3 linked regions of the Homo sapiens genome follow. The protein of the gene in region 2 interacts with the protein of the main gene of each other region in a biochemical or structural test. Each region holds a gene or a part of one and is shown on either strand. Other genes may lie near its edges. The genes, in order: ARHGAP21, IQSEC2 and MAGI1.

The links.
Region 1: the proteins of IQSEC2 (region 2) and ARHGAP21 interact in a test that uses a peptide from one of them, tested with the Homo sapiens proteins (one large-scale study listed by IntAct).
Region 3: the proteins of IQSEC2 (region 2) and MAGI1 interact in a test that uses a peptide from one of them, tested with the Homo sapiens proteins (one large-scale study listed by IntAct).

The regions. Positions count from the first base shown.
Region 1 is NC_000010.11:24,713,730-24,717,420, reverse strand, and holds part of ARHGAP21 (rho GTPase-activating protein 21), read left to right. Parts: intron 1-3,691. UniProt on the Homo sapiens protein: Functions as a GTPase-activating protein (GAP) for RHOA and CDC42. Downstream partner of ARF1 which may control Golgi apparatus structure and function. Also required for CTNNA1 recruitment to adherens junctions.
Region 2 is NC_000023.11:53,234,351-53,237,919, forward strand, and holds part of IQSEC2 (IQ motif and SEC7 domain-containing protein 2), read right to left. Parts: intron 3,167-3,569; coding exon of another isoform or gene 3,147-3,166; exon of another isoform or gene 2,823-3,146; coding exon of another isoform or gene 2,815-2,822; exon of another isoform or gene 2,152-2,814; intron 2,146-2,151; coding exon 1,972-2,145; intron 1,483-1,971; coding exon 1,433-1,482; intron 1,209-1,432; coding exon of another isoform or gene 1,137-1,208; exon of another isoform or gene 866-1,136; intron 835-865; coding exon 1-834. UniProt on the Homo sapiens protein: Is a guanine nucleotide exchange factor for the ARF GTP-binding proteins.
Region 3 is NC_000003.12:65,430,305-65,433,995, reverse strand, and holds part of MAGI1 (membrane-associated guanylate kinase, WW and PDZ domain-containing protein 1), read left to right. Parts: intron 1-3,114; coding exon 3,115-3,297; intron 3,298-3,691. UniProt on the Homo sapiens protein: Plays a role in coupling actin fibers to cell junctions in endothelial cells, via its interaction with AMOTL2 and CDH5. May regulate acid-induced ASIC3 currents by modulating its expression at the cell surface.

The sequences.
Region 1 (3,691 bases), on a different chromosome or scaffold from region 2:
ACAAGTTTATCTATATCCCCCTTGGATTGCAGTCCCTATAAGAGCAGGGACCATGTTTGTTTCCACAGGGACTGACACATAGTAAGTGTCAGGTGATATTTTTTGAATGAATAAATGAATATGCAGGAAAGGCTTTACATTTTATTCAGTGTTCATTTAGATTCCCGGACATTATACTCTCTTGATTATCTTCCTTCCTCGTTGTCACCTCCTTCTGTCTCTTTGAGGTTTCCTCGACATCCTGATTTGCTAAACCTTTCTACACCTCAAAGCTCAGTTAATCCTCATTTCTTCTCCCAATACTGTTTCATGGTTTTAAATATCAAGTATATGCAGATAATTGACACACACACACTCACTTATATTTCTTTATGTGTACATGTGTATATCTCTATTGCTGACCTGCTCCTCTGTCTCGCAGAATCAGATTCCTATATCCAACTGACCTGACTGCCTAGAATCTCCATTTGAATAGTAAATAGGCATATCTAAAACCACAATCCTGACTCTACCTCCATTCCCCTGGCCCACCTTCCCAAGTATGCTCCTTCCAGTCTTCCTCATCTCAAGCAATAGCAATCCCATCCTTCCAGGCCAGGCATCTTGGAGTGATCTTTGATGTCTCTCTTTTTTCTCATATATGACATGTGGATCTGGTTGACTGATTTCTCCACTTCAGTCCTTGCCAGCCTAAAGCCTGTTCTCCACACAGCAATCAGGACAGACAATTTATAAATCAAGTTGTGTCATTCCTTTGCTCAAATTCCTCAAATGGCTTCTCATTTCTCTGAAGATTGAAGGCCAAAGTTCTTGCAGTGACCTGCAAAGCCCTGTATAATTGGTCCTTCCCCCTCCCTGAGCGCACCTCCTGTGCCTCTTCCCGCCTCACTCTGTGCTAGCCATTCTGGTCTCTTGCTTTTCTGCATGTACACAAACGTGGGAGTCCCCAGAGCCTTCCCACTCACTGAACCCTCCCCTTAGAACACTTCCCCCAGTCTCTGCACAGCTTGCTTCCTTGGCTCCTTCGGGCTTTTGCTTAGAGGTCACCTTCCGAGTGAAGCTTTGCCAACCACTCCCTTTGTTGAATGCCCCTCCCCTGCTCCCTGTGCCATGCTCTGCCTTCCTTCCTTGCTTTATCTCCCTATCACTTAGTCTCCACCCGGCATGCTTATGCATTTGATTTTGTTTGTTTATTTGAGACAGGTAATATATCTAGAACGCAGGTGTTGAGAGTGCAGTTTGTCTGTTTTGTTCACATTGTGTTTCTTGTGCCTAGAAGAGTGCCTAGCACATAATAGGTTGTCAATAAATATGTTTTTGGAATGAATAAAGACTTAGCAAAACTCCAAAATGTTACTGAGTTTGCATTTGGACATGTAGTATGTGAATTCTTATTTATTTTATTTCTTTTTGAGACAGAGCCTTGCATTGTCACGCAGGCTTGAGTGCAGTGGTGCAATCTGCGCTCACAGCAACCTCCGCCTCCCAGGCTCAAGTGATTCTCCTGCCTCAGCCTCCTGAGTAGCTGGGATTACAGGCGTGTGCCAGCATGCCTGGTTAATTTTTGTATGTTTAGTAGAGATGGGGTTTTGCCATGTTGCCCAGGCTGGTCTCGAACTCCTGATCTCAAAGTGATCCACCCACCTCATCCTCCCAAAGTGCTGGAATTACAGGTGTGAGCCACTGCGCCCAGCTGAATACTTATTTTAGTTTATATAAAATATGTACAGTATGAAATATGTTCTTCCTTAGACCTCCTGCCCACCTTAAATTCTATTTCATTTCCGTTAGAACTGCTGTTAAAATTTTTGGTGCCTTTTTTCTTTGCACCTTTTTTACCTTTGGGAAGCTGGTAACCAAGTAACAGTAACCAAGACAATGTGTAGTACAAATGTATGAAACAATTTCCACTAAGAGATGAGATCATGATAATTAACAGACAAGTGAAAGGGCAATCAGACTGGTCGATAAGAGAAGCTATAAAAAGATAATCTGTATGGATGATGTTTTATTTCTTAAAACGAATGGCTAGTATATGGATGTTCCTTATTATGTATTTTTATTTTTTCATGTCATAAATATTTCATAACCAGTTAAAAAAAGATCACAAACATTGACCGTGATGAAATGTTAACAGTTGTTTATTCTGAATGATGAGAATATCAGGATTATATTATTTTTACATTTTCTCTTTTTTATTACCAAAATGACAATAAAAGAACACTATGTATAGACTTTAAAAATAGGTAATATGTATTCAGTCTTGTGAAAATTTGGTTTGTGGCAAACCTACACTGCTTAAAACAATACTAAAAAGCATACACACTGCTCAAAGCAACACTTAAAAAACAATTTTTTCTTTTTCTTTTCTTTTCTTTTCTTTTTTTTTTTGAGATGGACTCTCACTCTGTCGCCCAGGCTGGAGTGCAGTGGCGTGATCTTGGCTCACTGAAAGCTCTGCCTCGCGGGCTCATGCCTTTCTCCTGCCTCAGCCTCCCGAGTAGCTGGGACTACAGGCGCCCGCCACCATGCCTGGCTAATTTTTTGTATTTTTAGTAGAGACGGGGTTTCACCGTGTTAGGATGGTCTCGATCTCCTGACCTTGTGATCTGCCTACTGTGGCCTCCCAAAGTGCTAGGATTACAGGCGTGAACCACCGTGCCCGGCCAAAAAACAATTTTTAAAAAGCAAGTTTCTTCATTGGAGGCATAGGATTCATTCTAGACTAGTTACAGTATGGTATAACTCTATTATTTAATTTTAATTTTGTGTTTCTTCATACACCTGAATTTAAGTGTCAGAATACTGTTCCATGCCAAAAGTTTTATGCTGCAAGTTAGGGTTAAAGCTAAAACCTGTTAGAATTGAGAATGATGGCAGTAGCAGCAGCAGGGATCATTAAGTGGCATTTCGGCAGAAGCCTGGATTTTAATGTATTGAGTGGGGCCTATCACTAGATAAGAGCCATCAGCAAAGTGAGTACCCAGATCTAAAGAATTTCTCCGTAAATTGTTAGTGTTCCTTCCCATTCATTTCTTCCAGGTTAAGCGTTTTATGAAGTTCATTGTGCCTTGATGTTCTTCATTTCTTTAGTTACTACCAGGTCAAGTAATCTAGCACAAAGGTAATATTCAGTTTCTTTTGTTCTTTGCTTTGTGAAGGGTCCTGTCTTCTTATTATAGTTAACAATATGCTGATTTAAGTATGGGCAATGCTAGCGTTGATAAGATGCACAGATGCTGTTATTCAATGCAGCTATTTTCTGTTACAGAAAGACCATATGGTAGGCACTTGTTTTTCTGTCTAGTTGATGTGATTAGATTACTAAAACGAAAGGTTATTGGACTTAAAGATTGTCCTACTATTTTATCTAATTTTAATTGACTGTAAGTAATTAAATGTGTTAAAATATTGTAAGCCTTCCATATCTTCCCTGGTTTGAAGTAGAAAGATATCTAAATGCAAAAAACTCAATTTTGGATTGCTTTCACTAAAATAGTTTTATGGTTTAAGTTGCCATGTTCTTATAAAATTGGGTATTGTGCAAATTATTTCACAATCTAATCTGGATGATGGCATTTTGTGCTTCTCAAATAATCCAAAAGACAAATGGATATATTGTACTATAGGTTTGAGAAACTTGATGTGGGCTGGACGTGGTGGCTAATGCCTGTCATCCCAGTACTTTGGG
Region 2 (3,569 bases):
AGGGGAGGGTGGGGGGAGGGGTGGATAGGAGGGGTGGGGTGGGATGGGTGAGTGTGGTGACAATGGTGACTGGGGGTGGTGGGGGTGGGAGTAGGAGCCCCCTGGTGGCCGGGATCCAGGGCCCCCAGCCGCGCCTGCTGCTGGCATCATCTGTGGGTGGTGGCTGAAGATGAAGTGCTTAGGGCCCTGTTTGTGGGCTGGAGGGTGCTGGGGGGCAGGACTGTACAGGGGCAGTGGGGATGTGGGCTGGTGCAGGGGGTGGCGGCCATGTGGAGCAAACTGAGGGTGTCCTCCAGCCCCCCGTCTGGGTGCCCTGCCTGGCCGGCCCAAGGTATAGTGTTGGGGCCCTGGGACTGGGCCATGGGCGTGGAAGTGGCGATGTGGCCCCACAGGTGGGGCTGAGGCGGGAGGCGGTGGAATGGAGCCCAGCTGGGGCAAGGGTGGGGGCTGCTGGGGAGGTGGGGGAAGAGAGGGCTGCTGGGGTGGGAGGTAGGGTGGCGGGGCAGGGCCCGGTCCTTGGCAATACTGGGCATGCAGGGCCTGGAGCTTGGACTGCCCATCAGGCAGCACCCCCAGGCCACCGTGGCTATGGCCATGATGGTGGTGGTGGTGGTGGTGGTGCGTGGAAGAAGCAGATGAAGAGGAGGCAGAGGCCTGGCCTGTTGGCGGTGGTGGCATCTGGAAGGGCCCCTTGCCCCGCTTGCTTCCAAATAGGGAGCCCAGGAAGGATGAGGAGTTGGAGACGGGCCTCTGGCTCTTGTACTCCTCTGGCGGCGGGGGTGGGGGCGGAGGTGGCATCCTCTGGTGAGGGCGTGGACTGCTAATAACAGACCCCTGGAAGCGGGGAGGGGGGAAGTCAGGCCAGGCTAGATGCCCTAAACCCCCAGCCCTAAATTCCACCCCTGTCCCTGAGGGCTGGAGCTGGGGAGACAGCAAACCCCAAGTTGTAATAAAAACCAAATCACAGTCCGGTACGCGTATGTGGAGCTCCCCAGCTTGCAAAGCTCGGCTGTCACATCCACTATCTCAGCTGAGCCTCAGCTGGGAGAGGAGAAATTAGCAGTACCTCCTCCTCATCCCCATTTTGCAGGCAGGGAAAAGGTTAGGCCCAGAGAGGCAGAGTGACTCGCCCAGGGTCAAAGAGCAGGACTTGGAGGTAAGAGCTTCTCGTGGCCCAACTCCAAGGGCATCCCTACTCGCCGTCGGCCCTGGGGTTGAGAGGGGGCACGGGAGAGTGGAAGACAGACTGAGAGACAGGCAGAATGAGGACAGACAGAGTTGAGGACAGATGGAGAGAGTGGTTGGCTGGGAGAGGCAGCCGCATGGTTCCCAGCAGGGAAGAGGGGGAGCAACAGGTCCCCTCCTCCTCTGGGTCTCCATGGCCGGGGCAGGGCTCATGCAGAGGACGAGTGGGGCAGGAGCTGGCACTTACTTCGATGGTGCTGTCCAGCGATCCCACGCTGTTACGCCGCCCCCGCTTCCCTGCACCCACAAGCAAGGAGCCCAGCGTCAGAGCAGCAACCCCCCCCCTACCCTGCTGGGCTCCAGAGCTGGGCACCAGGACTGGGCCCCTCCCGGGGACAGACACCCCATTATCCCTTTCCCCCATTGAAGAGGGGGAGGCGGGGAGGAGGAGAGGTGGAGAAGGAGGAGAAAGAGGAGGAAAAGATGGAGAAGGAGGAGTGGAGGTACAGGAGAGACAGAAGAGGGAGAAGAGGAGGAGAGGGGGAGCAGCGAGAGAGAGGGACCAAGACTGTGGCCCCACTTCACACTCCCTGGCCCAAAAGCTGGGCTCCCCCTGCTCTGACCTGGCTCCCAGGCCCCCTGTGGCGCAGCGCCCAGGGCTCTGGGTGAAGGCAGGGTGCGTGCATGTGTGGCAGGTGGAGGGAAGGCTGGCGGCCAGTGACAGGAGGCAAAGAGGACACCCGGTCCCGTGTCTCCCCAGCCAGGGCAGGGGCCCAGAGGGCTTACCTGCATCAGAGAGGTCTCGCAGGGAACTGCTGAGTGCGCCCCGTTTGAGCCCATCGCCTGCCCCGTAAGTGTCCTCCAGGCTACTGCGGGCCATCGTCCCATTCACTGAGTCCTTGGCCCCTCCAGGCTGTGAGGCGTTAGGCCGCATCATACCTTTCTGCTTCTCCAGCTCCGCTGGGTGGCAGTCGGGGAGACAGGGAGCAAAGGTCAGGAACAGGAGTGAGAGCCCATCTGACTGACCCTAGCCCTCCATGGGCCATTCTCCTTCCTCCTCCCTCCTCCCTCCCTCTGTCCCCAGGCTTCGTGTTTTGCCCCTTGGACGACCAGCCCTTGTCTCCCCCAAAACTGCAGCTCCATCACCGAAGCACCCTTAGTGCCCAGCTCCTGTCTTGCACCCTCCCTTCCTGCTCAGCCTTCCCTTCATCCCTCTTGGTGCCTGCTCTCCCTGTTCCCTTTCCCTTCCTTTCACCCTTCTGACTTCTCCCCTCCCATGCCCTCTTGCAATCAGGTCTCCCAAAGCACCCCTGCCCTTCAAAAAAGAGCTTCATGGCAGATGGTTCACAGTAAGGATGGTAAGGCCCTTCTAGCCTATGGCAAAGGGCAATCTTTCCAGAGTTCAGTCAGTTCTCAGATACCTTGCTCCGGAGCAGAGGGGCTCCTGGAAGGGCAGGAGCAGGAAACTGACAGGAATCAAATCCTCTTATTATGTGCCAGGCAGTATGCTGGGCGCTACACATACTTGATCTCTCTCAGTCCTCACAACAGTTCTGAGGTCAGTATTAGCATCCACATTGTGCAGAGGAAGAAACTGAGTATCCGAGAAGTCTTAGAGCTTGCCCAGGGTCATACAGCTGGAAATGGCAGAGCCGACATTCTGGAAGCAGGTCTGCCTGATTCCAGAGCTTGGGTGCTTCCGGCCTCCTACAGCCCCACCTCCCCACGGAGCTCATAGAAACACGTGTCTACTGGCCTCCCCTCGTCTTGGGCTACTAATCCCTCTCTCAGGATTTCCCCAGGGTCTCAAAGGATCTGGTGAACTGAAATTTCTATCCCTGCCTCGCTGAGAAGTAGAGTGGCCCTGGAGCTGTGAAGGCCTCACCAAGGAGCTGTCCGCCGCCTCGTCTCTGTCTGCCTGCCTCTTTCTCCTTAACACCATGTTACTTAACTGTGACTGCTTAGCCTGGAGAAGAGAAAACTTGGAGGGCATCGGGAGGAATGAGATGTAATCACTATTTTCCATTATATATATATGATCAAAATGACTTGGTGTGGCCCCTGGGGGCTGAGAGGATAGCCCACTGGGATTCAGCTCAGGAATTGATATGTGGGCAGAGGAGGAGAGAGGGTGGGACAGGAAATACGGATTTTTTGAATGCCTAAGATGTGTTGGGACATTTCGGCTACCTTGTCTCATTTCATCTCCATGACTCTGTGAAGGAGACTTCATTACCCCAATTTCGTATAGGAAGAAACTGGGGCTTGGCAGGTTAGGCAATTTGCTGCAGTTCACCCAGATAATGAGTAGTATACCTGGGATCTAAAACTATAGTCCTACCTCCAATACTCTGATTCTTCTCCCTGATACCTTTCACTAGAAG
Region 3 (3,691 bases), on a different chromosome or scaffold from region 2:
TACAGTTAAAAAATCAAAAAATTAAGTTTTTCTGTCTCACTAGCCATATTTCAAGGGCTCAGTGGCTACATGTGACTAGTGGCTGCCATATTGAACAGTGCAGGTGCAGAGCATTTCCATCATCACGGAAAGTGCCATTAGACGGTACTGGTCTAGGGTATTTAAACACTAGTGTCAAGAAGTGACATTTCTTTCCCCTCCCCCCATCCTGGCAGGGAAACATGCACCTAAGGTTCATTCAGGTGCAGAGTTTTGGGCCAAGACCCAGAACATCCTGATCAGTGAGTCTAAGGAAGGAAGTGAAAATGAGTACATTTTAAAAAGCTACCCAGGGGATTTTCCCTGGGTAAGACACAACCAAGTCTTACCGCTGGTGACTGGTAAACAGAGGTTAGGATCTTAGAAAATTACATGTACCACAGGGCTGCAGCTGAGAGCTCCAAATTCCACTGCTTATGGGGTGAAAAGCGTTTCTTTCCAAAAGCTACATTAACTAATGATCCACCCATACGTAAAAAATAATAAAATGTGCATAAATGTGAAACCCTCTGATTTTCCTTCCCTTGTTAAACATTGGAAAAGGAAGTCAGTCGTATAATTTCAAAGCTCTGCTCATGTCTTTATTAAGTTAACATTCTCAGCACAAAATATGCTAATGTATTTTTTTTTAAGTAGATAAACTGCCAGGCACATTTTCACGTTTTCTAACTTAGCCTATAATAAGAGTGAAAAGCTCCAACAACCAAACACCTCTTTTCAGCCTTCTCAAAGACATGATAAATATCATTTCTGTGTGCTTTTATTTGTTCATTCATTCTCTCACTCAACAGAAATTTTTGGAGCACATAAAATGTACCAGACAATATTCTAGATACTTGATATACGTATAAAAATCCTCATGGAGCTAACATTCTAGTGGTTTTATGTACCTGCATATCAATGCCACTCATGCATGGGAGTTGGGGATAGTAAGAAAACCAAAGCAATAAGTAAGATGTATATTCTTTTGGAAGGTGGTAAATGCTAAGGACAAAAATAAAGCAGGAAAAAGGGATTGGGAATGTTGGAGGTACTGCAATTTTTAGTAAGGTGGTTAGGGAAGGTCTTGCTGCGAAGGTAATGGCTGTTGATGTCTCTGCATAACTGAAATGTGTTTCCCTTCAGGGCCCTGGAATGCCCTAGCAGCACCTGCTACAAGAGTGTAGGCCAGTCACCCTCCTCCCCCTAAAGTAAACTTTGGGGGTTATCTTACCTCACCTCAATTTCCATCTGATAATTGTCTTGGCAGCTGTCTCCCCAAAGCTCTTGGTGCAAGTGACACCACCCTCCCAACGCCTTGGCAGATGACTTTGCGTGGCGAATCCTTGTAAGTCTTGCCTTTCTTTAGCCACTATGACAGGGCTGTAGTTTGTCAACCTTCCAATAAGCTTTGGGACTGCGCTAGAGAGCAGGTTAGCGAAAGGACCTCTGATTGCAGGCAATTTAAAAGAGCCTTCTTTGCAAGAGCCAGAAACTTTTAAAATATGCAATTAAAAATTGTATGCATGCCCAGAGACCTTTTAAACTCTTTTAGATATAACTAACCAAAAATAACTTTCTTTCCTAGGTGCCAGGCTCCTAGTACAGGGGTGTAGGGGACTAATGTCTCCCTCTTTCTCTCTCTCTTTTTGTTTTGGATAACATTTTTGATAGAAAAGAAACAGGGCAGATGGAGAAGCTGTGTGTGGCAAGGACAGGGTATAAGAAGTAAGTAAAGTTAGAAGAGATGAAAGAAGCTGCTCATGAAATTAGGTCTACTACTTGGGATAATCAGAGAAGTTCCAGTAAGTTTCTCAATTACAGAGAAGTGCCTAGTAAAACCCAAAAGAAAACGTTTTGGTTTATGTTCAAAATGTTATTTGTGAATGTATCAAGAAAACTCAATAAAACCTTAGGTAGCATGTTTGGAAATAATTTAGCGATACCTCTATCTGTAAATTTATTTTATTTTTATTATTTTTTTGAGACAGAGTTTTGCTCTTGTTGCCCAGGCTGGAGTGCAATGGCGCAATCTCAGCTCACTGCAACCTCTACCTCCTGGATTCAAGTGATTGTCCTGCCTCAGCCTCCCAAGTAGCTGGGATTACAGGCATCCACCACCTCATCTGGCTAATTTTTGTATTTTTTTTTTTTAGTAGAGACAGGATTTCACTATGTTGGCCAGGTTGGTTTTGAACTCCTGACCTCAGTGCTCCACCTGACTCAGCCTCCCAAAGTGCTAGGATTACAGGCATGAGCCACCACACCCCCAGCCTAATTTATTTTAAATAAGACAGCTGAATTTGGAGCTGTGTGGCTACTGTTAGTAACTACTTAGTTTAGGGATTTTGTGTGTGTGTGTTGTGGGGGGGGTTTCTTTGTTTGTTTTTTTGGTTTGTGTTTTTTAAACAAATATCCTAAACTTGTTTTAAACAGTAATTCTTAGCCCTAGGCATGCGTTGGCTATATCACAAATTTAATAAAAGATCAGATAAATAGGAAAAAATCAGTTGAATTTAGAATTCAATTCAAAGTAATGACCCTTAATTTTGAAAATAGTCATTCTACATTTTTGTCAAATTATTATTTGTGACTATAATATGTTTTCTGGTATTATCTGTGCATTTTCAGCCTGGATTTTCCGTTTGATTAGTTCTGTTGGTTTTTCAAGTGGAAGCCAGGCCCAAAGCAGCACATCAGAAGCCATATAGCAAAATAAAATTAAAACAAAACAAAAGACATAAAACAGACCAGTTCCATTTTCTGTGAAGGGGTTTGTGGCAGCTCAATTCCTGTCAAAGTGCATGAATGGAAACCAAGAAGTGTGTCACCTGACAGGGACTAGTTTCATCCCTCTCTTGTAGTTTCTTTTGGACCCTGGAGTTGACATACTCAATGCTTTACCTCCCTCCATCAACACTGGGGCCTAGGAACATCCTTATTCCTCAAATTAAGAGAGGACTTTCTTAAGATGCTATATGCCCAAAGGCTCTAGGGCATAAGCGTGAAGAATTATCTATATGTTGTCTCAAATCTTGTTTAATTCTCCTTTTCACCAGTGGTGACATTCCTTATGCGTTTCTTATTTTAATCCAGGCAAACCCTTTTTTACACGAAACCCTTCTGAGTTGAAAGGCAAGTTCATTCACACAAAGCTGCGGAAAAGCAGTCGTGGCTTTGGCTTCACGGTGGTTGGAGGGGATGAACCTGATGAGTTTCTCCAGATCAAGAGCTTGGTCCTAGATGGTCCTGCTGCATTGGATGGCAAGATGGAAACAGGTAGCGTCAACATGGCCTTAGTGTGTTCTGTGTGGTGAGACTCCAATCCAGGAGATAAACATGTGCAATCATGATGTTGTTTGTTTGAGCAAGACCAAGCAACGTCATGATTGCACATGTTTACAGCTTTAAACACCTTGAGAATGAGCCAGGTCTCCACATTACATAAATTCATCCCTTGGGACAGATTAAAACCTGTGAAGTCATTTTAAGTTTGGGAAACTGTTTGAGTACAGTAAAGCAATGAGTTACTAAAACTGTAGATCCCCATTTAAATAAATGAATTCTAAACTTGGATTTCTGCAGTGAGATTTTTTTTTAGGAGAAAGCTCCAATGTTCTGTGAGTGATTATTACATTCTCATTAGCAGGGAAGACACTAGGTGCTGAAAGAA